Linked DNA regions of Homo sapiens. The protein of the gene in region 3 purifies or fractionates together with the protein of the main gene of each other region. This does not show direct contact. Each region holds a gene or a part of one and is shown on either strand. Other genes may lie near its edges. The genes, in order: POTEB2, POTEC and CEP83.

Evidence for each region.
Region 1: the proteins of CEP83 (region 3) and POTEB2 purify together in Homo sapiens (affinity purification with mass spectrometry, with the first as the bait; 2 studies listed by BioGRID). This does not show direct contact.
Region 2: the proteins of CEP83 (region 3) and POTEC purify together in Homo sapiens (affinity purification with mass spectrometry; 2 studies listed by BioGRID and IntAct, with this or other methods). This does not show direct contact.

What each region holds. Positions count from the first base shown.
Region 1 is NC_000015.10:20,863,459-20,867,467, forward strand, and holds the start of POTEB2 (POTE ankyrin domain family member B2), read right to left. Parts: upstream 2,857-4,009; 5' UTR 2,824-2,856; coding exon 2,414-2,823; intron 1-2,413.
Region 2 is NC_000018.10:14,540,732-14,545,106, forward strand, and holds the start of POTEC (POTE ankyrin domain family member C), read right to left. Parts: upstream 2,870-4,375; 5' UTR 2,416-2,869; coding exon 1,895-2,415; intron 1-1,894.
Region 3 is NC_000012.12:94,457,060-94,461,293, forward strand, and holds the start of CEP83 (centrosomal protein of 83 kDa), read right to left. Parts: upstream 2,809-4,234; 5' UTR 2,498-2,808; intron 1-2,497. UniProt on the Homo sapiens protein: Component of the distal appendage region of the centriole involved in the initiation of primary cilium assembly.

The DNA.
Region 1 (4,009 bases), on a different chromosome or scaffold from region 3:
AGAAGATAGCCATCCACAGGTATAAAAATAAATAATAGAATGTAAGAAATTATTTGTATCTATGCAAGTAGCATATTCCTTCTCTTCCCAAGGATTATTTCATTACTAATGAAACTTAACTAAAACTTTGCAGATGTTCATTGCAGAAATCACAGATAAGAGAAAGGGAAAAACTTCACTTACAAATCCCCAGAAATAAGTTTGATTATATTTTCCACATATTTCCAGCTAACACAAGAGCAGATTCTATTTGTGTATATGTATAACAAACTGATTTTTTCTCACTTGATACAGCAAAGTACATCTCTGCATGCCGACATATCTCTGTATCTACTGACACCCTCAATGGTTACATATTATTCCATCCTATGGATGCACTGAAATTTGTTCATAAAATCTTTATATGAGTTCTTCTCAATACATGGCTATTTTAAGCAATACTAAGAAAAACAGCTGTGTCTGTTTCATATAGATATTTCGGTATAATGGAACAGATGGGTAAAAGGCATACACATTTTAAAAATGTGGTTCTTACCATCAAAGTGTCTATTTGAAAAGTCGCAGCAACTTAAACTTTCAGCAGGTATATAAGTACCACTGTTCTTCACCCTCACAAACTTTGTGGACACAAAACAGTATTTCATTCCTTTATATTTATTTATTTATTTTTATTTATTTATTTTTTTGAGATGGAGTCTCACTCCATCACCCAGGCTGGAGTGTAGTGGTGCAATCTCAGCTCACTGCAACCTCTGTCTCCCTGGTTCAAGCAATTCTCCTGCCTCAGCCTCCTGAGTAGCTAGGATTACAGGTGCATGCCACCATGCCCAGCTAATTCTTTGTATTTTTAGTAGAAACGGGTTTCACCATGCTGGCCAGGCTAGTATCAAACTCCTGACCTCGTGATCCACCTGCCTTGGCCTCCCAAAGTGCTGGGATTACAGGCATGAGCCACCATGGCTGGCCTTTCATTCCTCTTCTAACTTAAACAGAAAATAGTCTTTCATTCCTCTTCTAACTTAAATTCCTTCTCTTAGCAGGAATGCTATGTTTTCCTATGTACACAGGTCACTGGTAGACATGCAAAAAAGTACCTTGCCCAATTTTAAATTGAGCTTATTTTATTATATCTGCATATATATGCCGGTTTCAGTGGCTCATGACTGTAATCTCAGCACTTTGGGAGGCTGAGGTGGGTGGATCACAAGGACAGGAGTTCAAGACCAGCCTGGCAAAGATGGTGAAATCCCGTCTTGATTAAGAACACAAAAAATTAGCCAGGCATGGTGGTGGGTGCCTGTAATCCCAGCTACTTGGTAGGCTGAGGCAAAGAATTACTTGAACCAGGAACCAGAGGTTGTAGTGAGCTGATATTGCACCACTGCACTCCAGCCTGGGCTATGGAGTGAGAGTCTGTCTCAGAAAAATAAATAAATATTTGCACATATAAATAGGCATTTGTGTTTTCTTCTGGTACTTTTCTCCTTTTGTATCTTTAAAATTTTTAATCTATACTCCAGGAACTTATTTTTGTGACATAAAAATCTAGGTAGTTTTCTCCAAACAGCATGCATTTAATTTATGAATAATTCACCTTGTTTTACCAATATGAAACATCACCATTATCAAGTGCTAAATTCTTACATATATTTGGGTATTTCTGGATTTCCTATTCTGTTCTGTTCACTTATGTCTTTTCAGCTGTTAGTAAACAATTTGTGGAAATAACACACGCACATTTTGATATCTGGAAAAGCAAGTCTTTTTCCATTCTGTTACAAAAAATCAATTTATCACAATGATAAAATACATCATGTGCAATTTAAAGACACTAAGACTTTGCTATTTTTATTTGGCTTATGTAAAAGTGATAAACACAGAAAAAGCTCACATCTTAAGAAAAACGAACCTTCCTATTCAAAGATATGAACCATACTTCCCATTTCAGTTTCCTTTTAAGGTTACTCAGTAAAGAACGTGTTTACATAGGGTACACATCGATATAAAATCCATATTGGATTTTATTTGAAAAATATTTAGCCCAGAAGTTGATATATTATGGGACTTAGTTCTCAATATACACCTTTCTATAGTGTATAGAACATTGTTTTAAAATGTGTACATTAAAAATAATCTGCTGCATCGACTTAATTTTGCGAGTTAAATCACTTTAAAACCGTCTATTAGTGTTCTATAAGGGAAATTATAATTGGATTGGAAATCAGCTAAAGTTTTGTTTTTGTGTTGCTGTTTATAAAGGGACCTGGGCCCTGACATCTCTGAGGTTTCCACACCCAGGGTGGTGTGGGGCCTGCGGAGGAAGAGAAAGCCTGGCTCCTCCCTCCCTGCGCCAGGAGGGTATGTCCCCATCATCCCCCCATGTCCCGCCTCCTCCCATCCCAGGCCCGGTTACCTCTTTTGCTTGTCCCTCTTGTTCATGTCAGTGTCCCTGAGCATGACGATGAGATCCTTTCTGGGGACTTTACCCCACCAGGCAGCTCTGTGGAGCTTGTCCAGATCTTCTCGACGGACGTGGTACCTCGGCTCCATGAAGGCGCTGTCGTCGTAGTCTCCCCAAGTGCCCACGTTGCTCTTGCCGCTCCCCCTGCAGCAGGGGAAGCAGTGACAGCACCACTTGCCCATCTTGCTCCTGAGTGTCTTCATAAAGGAGTCGTCATGGTCTCCAGAAGTGCCCACATTGCTCGTGCCGCTCCCCCTGCAGCAGGGGAAGCGGTGGTGGCACCACTTGCCCATCTTGCTCCTGAGATCAAATGGCTTCTTCACAGCAGAGGCAGCGGGCATTGAACAAACCTCAGCCACCATCTGCTTTTAACAGCCAGGGGAGGCCGGTAGTAGCGAACAGATCGCGTCTACCAACCAGTTTCACCAACTAGCAGGAAACCCTGGGTTTCCAATCTGTTTGAAGAGAAAGGTCAATCCCAGCCAAAACTTGCCAACCCCAGCAAGGGAGCCCAGCCCACCCCACCCAGGGAAAACCCACACCCACCCGGGGAAAGCCCACGCCCACCAGGGGGACCCCACGCCCACCCCAGGAAAGGCCAAGCCCCCCCTCCCAAGGAAACACCCAGCCCAGTCAAGGGAATGCCAAACCCAGCAGAGAAAAGGTCAAGTCCAGCAAAGGAATGCGAGGGAGGAAACGCCAATCCAAGCAAGAAACACCAGGCAAAGCTACTAACAGCCAAGCCAAGCTAGGAACGCAAGGCCAAGCGAGGAACGCGAAGCGAAGCGTACCCGTTACAGGTAAGCCAAGCCGTTATGCGCGTGCGGGGCGCGCGTGCGGGGCGCGCGCCTCAGACGTTATGCGGCGTGTGCGTGAGGCGTGCGCGTGTCATTGCACGTGGTCCAGGAAGTGGCCGATGTGTGCAATCCGCGTGCGCAAGTCTTGGCGCCACAAATGTCAGTGACAGCCTTGCGTTACTGGCAAAGTTCATGGGAGTTGGCCCAGCTTTCTGGCCACTGAGGAGAGAAGCCTGTGGTGGGAAAAAGCCTCTTGAAGCAGGACTGGGGCTAGAGCGCCTGGAACTCGAGGATGCTGACAGCCTCCTCTGAAGAAAGCCCCCAAGACACTAGTGGTGGCGCTGTTGCGGGTGGCCGCCGCTGCAGCTTAGAGCTCTGGTTGGCGGAGCTGGATGCAAATGGCCTCAAAATCTCCAAGCACAAGACGCCCACGGAGCCCAGGGCCTGCCTGAGGCGCCTTCCACACCTGCTCCTCCTTGGTCCGCACCCAGAACACAGGGCCATCAGCAACGGGGCACTCGGGGCCACAGAATCGGGGCTGGGCTGCTAGCTCCTGCTGTGGTGCCCCCTGCCTGGTGTCCAAACCAGGGCCAACAGCTGTGGGGCTTCTGGCCCGGGGTGCTTCGCTTCACTGGCATGCAGTAGGGTTGAGGTGCAGGCCGCTGTCTCCAGGCCTGCAAGAGGGGGCTGGGAGGAGCACCTACCACTGATGGGGAGATGCAGGAAGGCACCCCCACGTGCAGATCCTGGG
Region 2 (4,375 bases), on a different chromosome or scaffold from region 3:
CACATTTTAAAAATGTGGTTCTTACCATCAAAGTGTCTATTTGAAAAGTCGCAGCAACTTAAACTTTCAGCAAGTAATATAAGTACCACTGTTCTTCACCCTCACAAACTTTGTGGACAGAAAACAGTATTTCATTCCTCTATATTTATTTATTTATTTTTATTTATTTATTTTTTTGAGATGGAGTCTCACTCCATCACCCAGGCTGGAGTGTAGTGGTGCAATCTCAGCTCACTGCAACCTCCGTCTCCCTGGTTCAAGCAATTCTCCTGCCTCAGCCTCCTGAGTAGCTAAGATTACAGGTGCATGCCACCATGCCCAGCTAATTCTTTGTATTTTTAGTAGAAACGGGTTTCACCACGCTGGCCAAGCTAGTATCAAACTCCTGACCTCGTGATCCACCTGCCTTGGCCTCCCAAAGTGCTGGGATTACAGGCATGAGCCACCATGGCTGGCCTTTCATTCCTCTTCTAACTTAAACAGAAAATAGTCTTTCATTCCTCTTCTAACTTAAATTCCTTCTCTTAGCAGGAATGCTATGTTTTCCTATGTGCACAGGTCACTGGTAGACATGCAAAAAAGTACCTTGCCCAATTTTAAATTGAGCTTATTTTATTATATCTGCATATATATGCCGGTTTCAGAGGCTCATGACTGTAATCTCAGCACTTTGGGAGGCTGAGGTGGGTGGATCACAAGGACAGGAGTTCAAGACCAGCCTGGCAAAGATGGTGAAATCCCGTCTTAAGAACACAAAAAAGTAGCCAGGCATGGTGGTGGGTGCCTGTAATCCCAGCTACTTGGTAGGCTGAGGCAGAGAATTACTTGAACCAGGAACCAGAGGTTGTAGTGAGCTGATATTGCACCACTGCACTCCAGCCTGGGCCATGGAGTGAGAGTCTGTCTCAGAAAAATAAATAAATATTTGCACATATAAATAGGCATTTGTGTTTTCTTCTGGTACTTTTCTCCTTTTGTATCTTTAAAATTTTTAATCTATACTCCAGGAACTTATTTTTGTGACATAAAAATCTAGGTAGTTTTCTCCAAACAGCATGCATTTAATTTATGAATAATTCACCTTGTTTTACCAATATGAAACATCACCATTATCAAGTGCTAAATTCTTACATATATTTGGGTATTTCTGGATTTCCTATTCTGTTCTGTTCATTTATGTCTTTTCAGCTGTTAGTAAACAATTTGTGGAAATAACACATGCACATTTTGATATCTGGAAAAGCAAGTCTTTTTCCATTCTGTTACAAAAAATCAATTTATCACAATGATAAAATACATCATGTGCAATTTAAAGACACTAAGACTTTGCTATTTTTATTTGGCTTATGTAAAAGTGATAAACACAGAAAAAGCTCACATCTTAAGAAAAACGAACCTTCCTATTCAAAGATATGAACCATACTTCCCATTTCAGTTTCCTTTTAAGGTTACTCAGTAAAGAACGTATTTACATAGGGCACATCGATATAAAATCCATATTGGATTTTATTTGAAAAATATTTAGCCCAGAAGTTGATATATTATGGGGCTTAGTTCTCAATATACACCTTTCTATAGTGTATAGAACATTGTTTTAAAATGTGTACATTAAAAATAATCTGCTGCATTGACTTAATTTTGCGAGTTAAATCACTTTAAAACCGTCTATTAGTGTTCTATAAGGGAAATTATAATTGGATTGAAAATCAGCTAACATTTTTTGTGTTGCTGTTTATAAAGGGACCTGGGCCCTGACCTCTCTGAGGTTTCCACACCCAGGGTGGTGTGGGGCCTGCGGAGGAAGAGAAAGCCTGGCTCCTCCCTCCCTGCGCCAGGAGGGTATGTCCCCATCATCCCCCCATGTCCCGCCTCCTCCCATCCCAGGCCCAGTTACCTCTTTTGCTTGTCCCTCTTGTTCATGTCCGTGTCCCTGAGCATGACGATGAGATCCTTTCTGGGGACCTTACCCCACCAGGCAGCTCTGTGGAGCTTGTCCAGATCTTCTCGACGGACGTGGTACCTCGGCTCCATGAAGGCGCTGTCGTCGTAGTCTCCCCAAGCGCCCACGTTGCTCTTGCCGCTCCCCCTGCAGCAGGGGAAGCAGTGACAGCACCACTTGCCCATCTTGCTCCTGAGCGTCTTCATAAAGGAGTTGTCATGGTCTCCAGAAGTGCCCACGTTGCTCGTGCCGCTCCCCCTGCAGCAGGGGAAGCAGTGGTGGCAACACTTGCCCATCTTGCTCCTGAGCATCTTCATAAAGGAGTCGTCGTGGTCTCCAGAAGTGCCCATGTTGCTCTTGCCGCTCCCCTTGCAGCAGGGGAAGCGGTGGTGAAACCACTTGCCCATCTTGCTCCTGAGATCGAATGGCTTCTTCACAGCAGAGGCAGCGGGCATTGAACAAACCTCAGTCACCATCTGCTTTTAACAGCCCGGGGAGGCCGGTAGTAGCGAACAGATCGCGTCTACCAACCAGTTTCACCAACTAGCAGGAAACCCTGGGTTTCCAATCTGTTTGAAGAGAAAGGTCAATCCCAGCCAAAACTTGCCAACCCCAGCAAGGGAGCCCAGTCCACCCCACCCAGGGAAAACCCACACCCACCCGGGGAAAGCCCACGCCCACCAGGGGGACCCAACGCCCACCCCAGGAAAGGCCAAGCCCCCCCTCCCAAGGAAACACCCAGCCCAGTCAAGGGAATGCCAAACCCAGCAGAGAAAAAGTCAAGCCCAGCAAAGGAATGCGAGGGAGGAAACGCCAATCCAAGCAAGAAACACCAGGCAAAGCGACTAACGCCAAGCCAAGCTAGGAACGCAAGGCCAAGCGAGGAACGCAAAGCGAAGCGTACCCGTTACAGGTAAGCCAAGCCGTTATGCGCGTGCGGGGCGCGCGTGCGGGGCGCGCGTGAGGCGTGCGCGCCTCAGACGTTACGCGGCGTGCGCGTGAGGCGTGCGCGCGTCATTGCACGTGGTGCAGGAAGTGGCCGATGTGTGCAATCCGGGTGCGCAAGTCTTGGCGCCACAAATGTCAGTGACAGCCTTGCGTTACTGGCAAAGTTCATGGGAGTTGGCCCAGCTTTCGGGCCACTGAGGAGAAGCCTGTGGTGGGAAAAAGCCTCTTGAAGCAGGACTGGGGCTAGAGCGCCTGGAACTCGAAGATGCTGACAGCCTCCTCTGAAGAAAGCCCCCAAGACACTAGTGGTGGTGCTGTTGCGGGTGGCCGCCGCTGCAGCTTAGAGCTCTGGTTGGCGGAGCTGGATGCAAATGGCCTCAAAATCTCCGAGCACAAGACGCCCACGGAGCCCAGGGCCTGCCTGAGGCGCCTTCCACACCTGCTCCTCCTTGGTCCGCACCCAGAACACAGGGTCATCAGCAACGGGGCACTCGGGGCCACAGAATCGGGGCTGGGCTGCTAGCTCCTGCTGTGGTGCCCCCTGCCTGGTGTCCAAACCAGGGCCAACAGCTGTGGGGCTTCTGGCCCGGGGTGCTTCGCTTCACTGGCATGCAGTAGGGTTGAGGTGCAGGCCGCTGTCTCCAGGCCTGCAAGAGGGAGCTGGGAGGAGCACCTACCACTGATGGGGAGATGCAGGAAGGCACCCCCACGTGCAGATCCTGGGAACAGGACACTGCCAGCACCAGGGAGCCAGATCGGAGCCTCCCTGGCAGCCTGTGAGCTGGACCCAGGCAGTGGCACCTCGACCCTCCTGCTGGGACCCTCCTGCTGTGCAGGCTTATGTAGCCAGGCTCCAGGCTGCTTCACCCATACTGCAGGTGCTTTGGTGTGGGAGGAAAAATGCATTCTGGCCGGGCACTGTGGCTCACGCCTGTAATCCCAGCACTTTGGGAGGCTGAGGCGGGCGGATCATAAGGTCAGGAGATAAAGACCATCCTGGCTAACACGGTGAAACCTCATCTCTACTAAAAATACAAAATACTAGCGGGCATGGTGGTGGGCGCCTGTAGTCCCAGCTACTCGGGAGGCAGGAGAATGGCGTGAACCCGGGAGGCCGAGCTTGCAGTGAGCCGAGATCGCATCACTGCAACCTGGGCGACAAAGCAAGGCTCTGTCAAAAAAAGAGAGAGAGAGAGAGAGACGGAGAGAAAGAGAGAAAAATGGATTCTAAGCCTGGGACACCGACCTGCTCTTGCCAACAAAAGCAGAGGGGAAGCCAATTACAAGTGCAAAAAAAAAGTTTTTATTTCAGTGGGATGAATGTCTAGGTGTGCAGTCACTGGAGTAAACGTCACTGGGACATGATGTGTAATTCTTTGTGTACATCGCTGAGTTCTGCTGCTAATGTTGTTAAGAATTGGTGTATCCATGTTCAAGAGAATTACCGGGCTATAGTTTACTTTTTTGTACTATTTTGATATCAGAGTA
Region 3 (4,234 bases):
AGAAAGAAGGGAATAAGATCAGGTCACGGGGGATAGAAAGATATGCAGACTAATATGGAAAGGATAAAGTACAGAGCAGGTTTAGGGGATAGTGAAGAAACCAATCTGGGCAGAGACACCTTTTCCATAAAGAACATACACTTGAAAAGGCAAGGTGAGAGGATTTCAAATAATTCACCTTAAGTCAAGAAACATGAACTTGGGTTAAAAGGAAGTTTTTTACACAGATTTACACACATTCCCTAAAAGCACATAGGTTAAACAATGTGGGCAATTTACTTATGGAACCTAATATGTATGACAAAATTAAAAGCAAGCTCATCTACTTTTAGGCAAAGAGACAGTACCTGGGGGTGGGGAAATTCTGACAATTCACTAAAATTCACTAATCTTTCTGTTAAGATTTCACTCTAAGCTTCTTGAATTAGAACATCCCATGACATAATGCTGATTTCTGATTACTAAGGATTATACGAGTCATTCTTGATTTGTCTCCTCCATCTTGCCCAACTTTTGAATATTTCATTACTTCAACATCAGCATATAGAAAAAAGGAGGAGAGAACTAAAATTAAGTCCATGGATTTTAGCAATACATAAGGGTATCTGACATAAAGAACATTAAACTTCAAGTTCCAATTCCCATTATTAATAGATTTCAAAGAAGTCATTTAGTCTCATCATGTCTCAAATTTTCTCACATACTTGCTTACTTGAAAGGTTATTGATTGAAAAGATCATTCAAAAAGTGCTCTAAAAACTAACAACTTGCCATAAAAATTTTATCATTAAGGGTTCAATAAGAGGAGACAGTGAGGTGACTGGTAAACCAAGGATTAAAAACTACCTGTGAATAGGCCAGGCACGCTGGCTCACACCTGTAATCCCAGCACTTTGGGAGGTCAAGGTGGGCAGATCGCCTGAAGTCAGGAGTTCGTGACCAGCCTGGGCAATATGGTGAAACCCCATCTCTACTAAAAATACAAAAATTAGCAGGGCATGGTGGCATGCACCTGTAACCCCAGCTACTCGGGAGGCTGAGAGGAGAGAATCACTTGAAACTGGGAGGCGGAAGTTGCAGTGAGCTGAGATCCCACCACTGCACTCCAGCCTGAGCGACAAGAATGAAACTCTGTCTCAAAAAAAGAAAAAAAAAAAAACTACCTGTGAATAATCAGTGTTTCATTCTCCCAGTGCTGCATGGAATTCTAAATTGTATTTCACTATTATTTGAGAATGTTCTAAATACAGTCCGCGCACTTCATCTGATCTGGAAAGAAAACACTCAAAGTAAGGGGAATACCCAGCATACTCTGTCCTAAATAACCAAAGGACAACTCAAAACCATTTGCAACTCTCAGGAGAGTCCTGTGTGACACTTATAATTTAAAGCATTCTGGCCTGGTGCGGTGGCTCACACCTGTAATCCCAGCACTTTGGGAGGCCGAGGTGGGCGGATCACCTGAGGTCGGGAGTTTGAGACCAGCCTGGCCAACATGGTGAAACCCCATCTCTACTAAAATAAAAAAATTAGCCGGGCATGGTGGCACGCACCTGTAATCCCAGCTACTCGGGAGGCTGAGGCAGGAGAATCGCTTGAACCCAGGAGGCGGAGGTTGCAGTGAGCCGAGATCGCGCTACTGCACTCCAGCCTGGGCGACAGAGTGAGACTCAGTCATAAATAAATAAATAAAGCATTCTAACAATTCTGAACAAACTGAGTTTGAAATCAAACCTCAATACAAAAGGTGAGTATTAATTCTAACCACTTACAGGCTAAATTCATAAATATGGAAAATTCTAAATCCAGGTAACTGTAGGATAGATACCTTTAATTGTGTTTTAGTTAAATGTCAGACTTGTTTACAGACATGTTGCTTGGTAACAGAAGCACTGCTTTAACAACCCACTCTGTTTTAGAGCTGCTTAAAGTCTGAACAGATTATGAAGTATATATCATATACACGAAATTCAGACAAGTCTTTCCTTATCCTAGAGATCTGTAAGATTTGAAAGAGCTTCCTCATTTCAGCTAACTAAAGGCTTTACAAATACTTAGCAGTGGATATTCTTAAGAGCAAAATGCCCATTGATTATGGTCAAAAGTTGGACACTGAGGATTAACCAAAGTATTTAAACCCAGCATATGCTAACATATTTTAGGTGTTTATCTCAGTAATGACAGTCGACATCACTGTTCATTCAAATTGTCTTCAAAGCCAAGGAAAATGGTAGCATAGCTTTTTCATCGTAAATTAAGCTGGAGGTACTTAAACGTCTGGCCAATTACCAAACTGGCTACACAACCACCAAGCCAGAGTGCATCCAAAAGCTCCATGAAGAGTTTCACGTGCGTCTCTCTGCCTACTTTTCTAGCACGAGCTTCCACTACTTTAACAGGAAAATAAAAAAAGGATTCAAGGGCAGTTTGTGGAGGGACAAAATGAGTATTCCAAAATACAAACAAGACACCGTCCCCAGAAAGAGAGGTTACATACCAGACGCACGCACGCTCCTTGCAACCCGCACACGGAAAACTTAAGTGACCGCAGTTCTGGCCGCGCTCGCCACCGGGGACACCTCCACAGCTCCAACCACAGGCACCCACTCAACTCCGCTTACGGAGGCATTGGGACTAAGGGTTACGGTCCTACAGCGGGGTGTCGGCCCAGCGAGAGGAAGAGGGCCGAACGGACCCCTCGGGCTCCCGTCCCTAGGGAAATGTGAAGTATCCCGGGAGAGGTCCGAGGGCGGCGGCGGCGGCGGTGAAAAGCCCCACTCCTCCGCGTGGACCGGGATCCTCAGGGGTGCGGCGCCACCCCACGTGCTGACGTATGGCCCAGAAGCCGCCTCATCGCACCGCCCCACCAGCCTGGAGGAGCGGGCTCTGTCCCTTGGCCCAGCGGCACGCGAAGCAGGAAGTCCCACCCCCCACGCCGACGTCACCCACGCCACCGACGCCGGTTGCTGCCGGAGCCGTTAGAGGGAGGAGACAAACGAACCGAGGCGGGAGCGGCCACGGGTGACAGCGGCAGCGGCGGGGCCGGGCTGCGCTCCCGAAGGCGTTCCTGGAGGGCCCTGGGATGGACTCAGAGATCCCCAGAGCCCCAGGGGACGGAAAATCTAGCCCCGGGCACTTGCCTTGGAGTCTGAGTGATGCGCGTCGTTGGAGCGCGAAGCCGGTCTCCCTAGCCTCCGCCCGACACAGCGTCTCCAGGGGTTTTCCTCCTTTTCGCGCCTCTCCTTCCCTCTTCCCCACACCATTTGAGAGCCTCAAATGGTAGTCCTGCCGCCACCTCTCTCCCTTCGCCAGCCTGCCATCGTCCCCATGGGTGCAGATATGCGCTCCCGAAGCCGCCTGCCTGCCGCGTCTGCCTCGGGCATCAGCCCACGAGTGGGGAGTCGGCTCAGCTTGCCACGAGGGAACCTCGGGTTAGGACCAATCGCCCGGGAGAGAGCCCTCCTCGCCCCCGCACCTCCTGCTCCAAGTCTCCTGTCCTGGTTATCCCAAGTTCAGGGCCCACCTGGGGTCACATGGGGAACTACTTGTCTTAAGGCTGTAAACAATAGTTGGAAGAGGAGTTGCTAGCTTTTGAGAACTTCCATGATCATCCAAAGTCTGAAACAAAGTAGGCGGTCAGCCTTTCAAAATACGTGTTGGAAGAAACAGACACCTTCCCATCCCCAGCGTTTGTTCAGTGCCTTGGTTGGGCTTTGATTCTCACTGCTTTGTGAAGTACAGCTTATTTTTACCCCCAAGATTATGATTTTCAGGCTGTAGTTATTATTGGACAACTGAGAGGTGATTTTGTTGTTGTTGAAATGAGGGAAAACGGGCCATTAGAAAGGACCGTGTCTCTTAAGAGGAGGGAAAAAAAGGACAGCGAGTTGGTAATGGAATGTTGCTGGATGGATTACATAGATGAGACATGGGAGATAGAATAGAGAATCCAGAAATTCTCATGTATGTGTGCGTGTTTAGTATAATAACAGTAGCTCACATTTGCTGAGCATTTGTGTGGCAAGTACTGGAGTACTTTTTCAGGTTATCTTATTTAACTCTAACATTTCTGTAAGGTAGGTGCAATTGTTATCTCCATTTCACAGAGTTGCCCAAAACCATTACTTTTAAACGCTGGAGCCAGACAACTCCAGAAATCTCTGTGGTAGCCAGTAAACTATACATGACAAATTATTGGTCAGTAGGAAAAAGATCATTCGGGAAATGGCGGTGG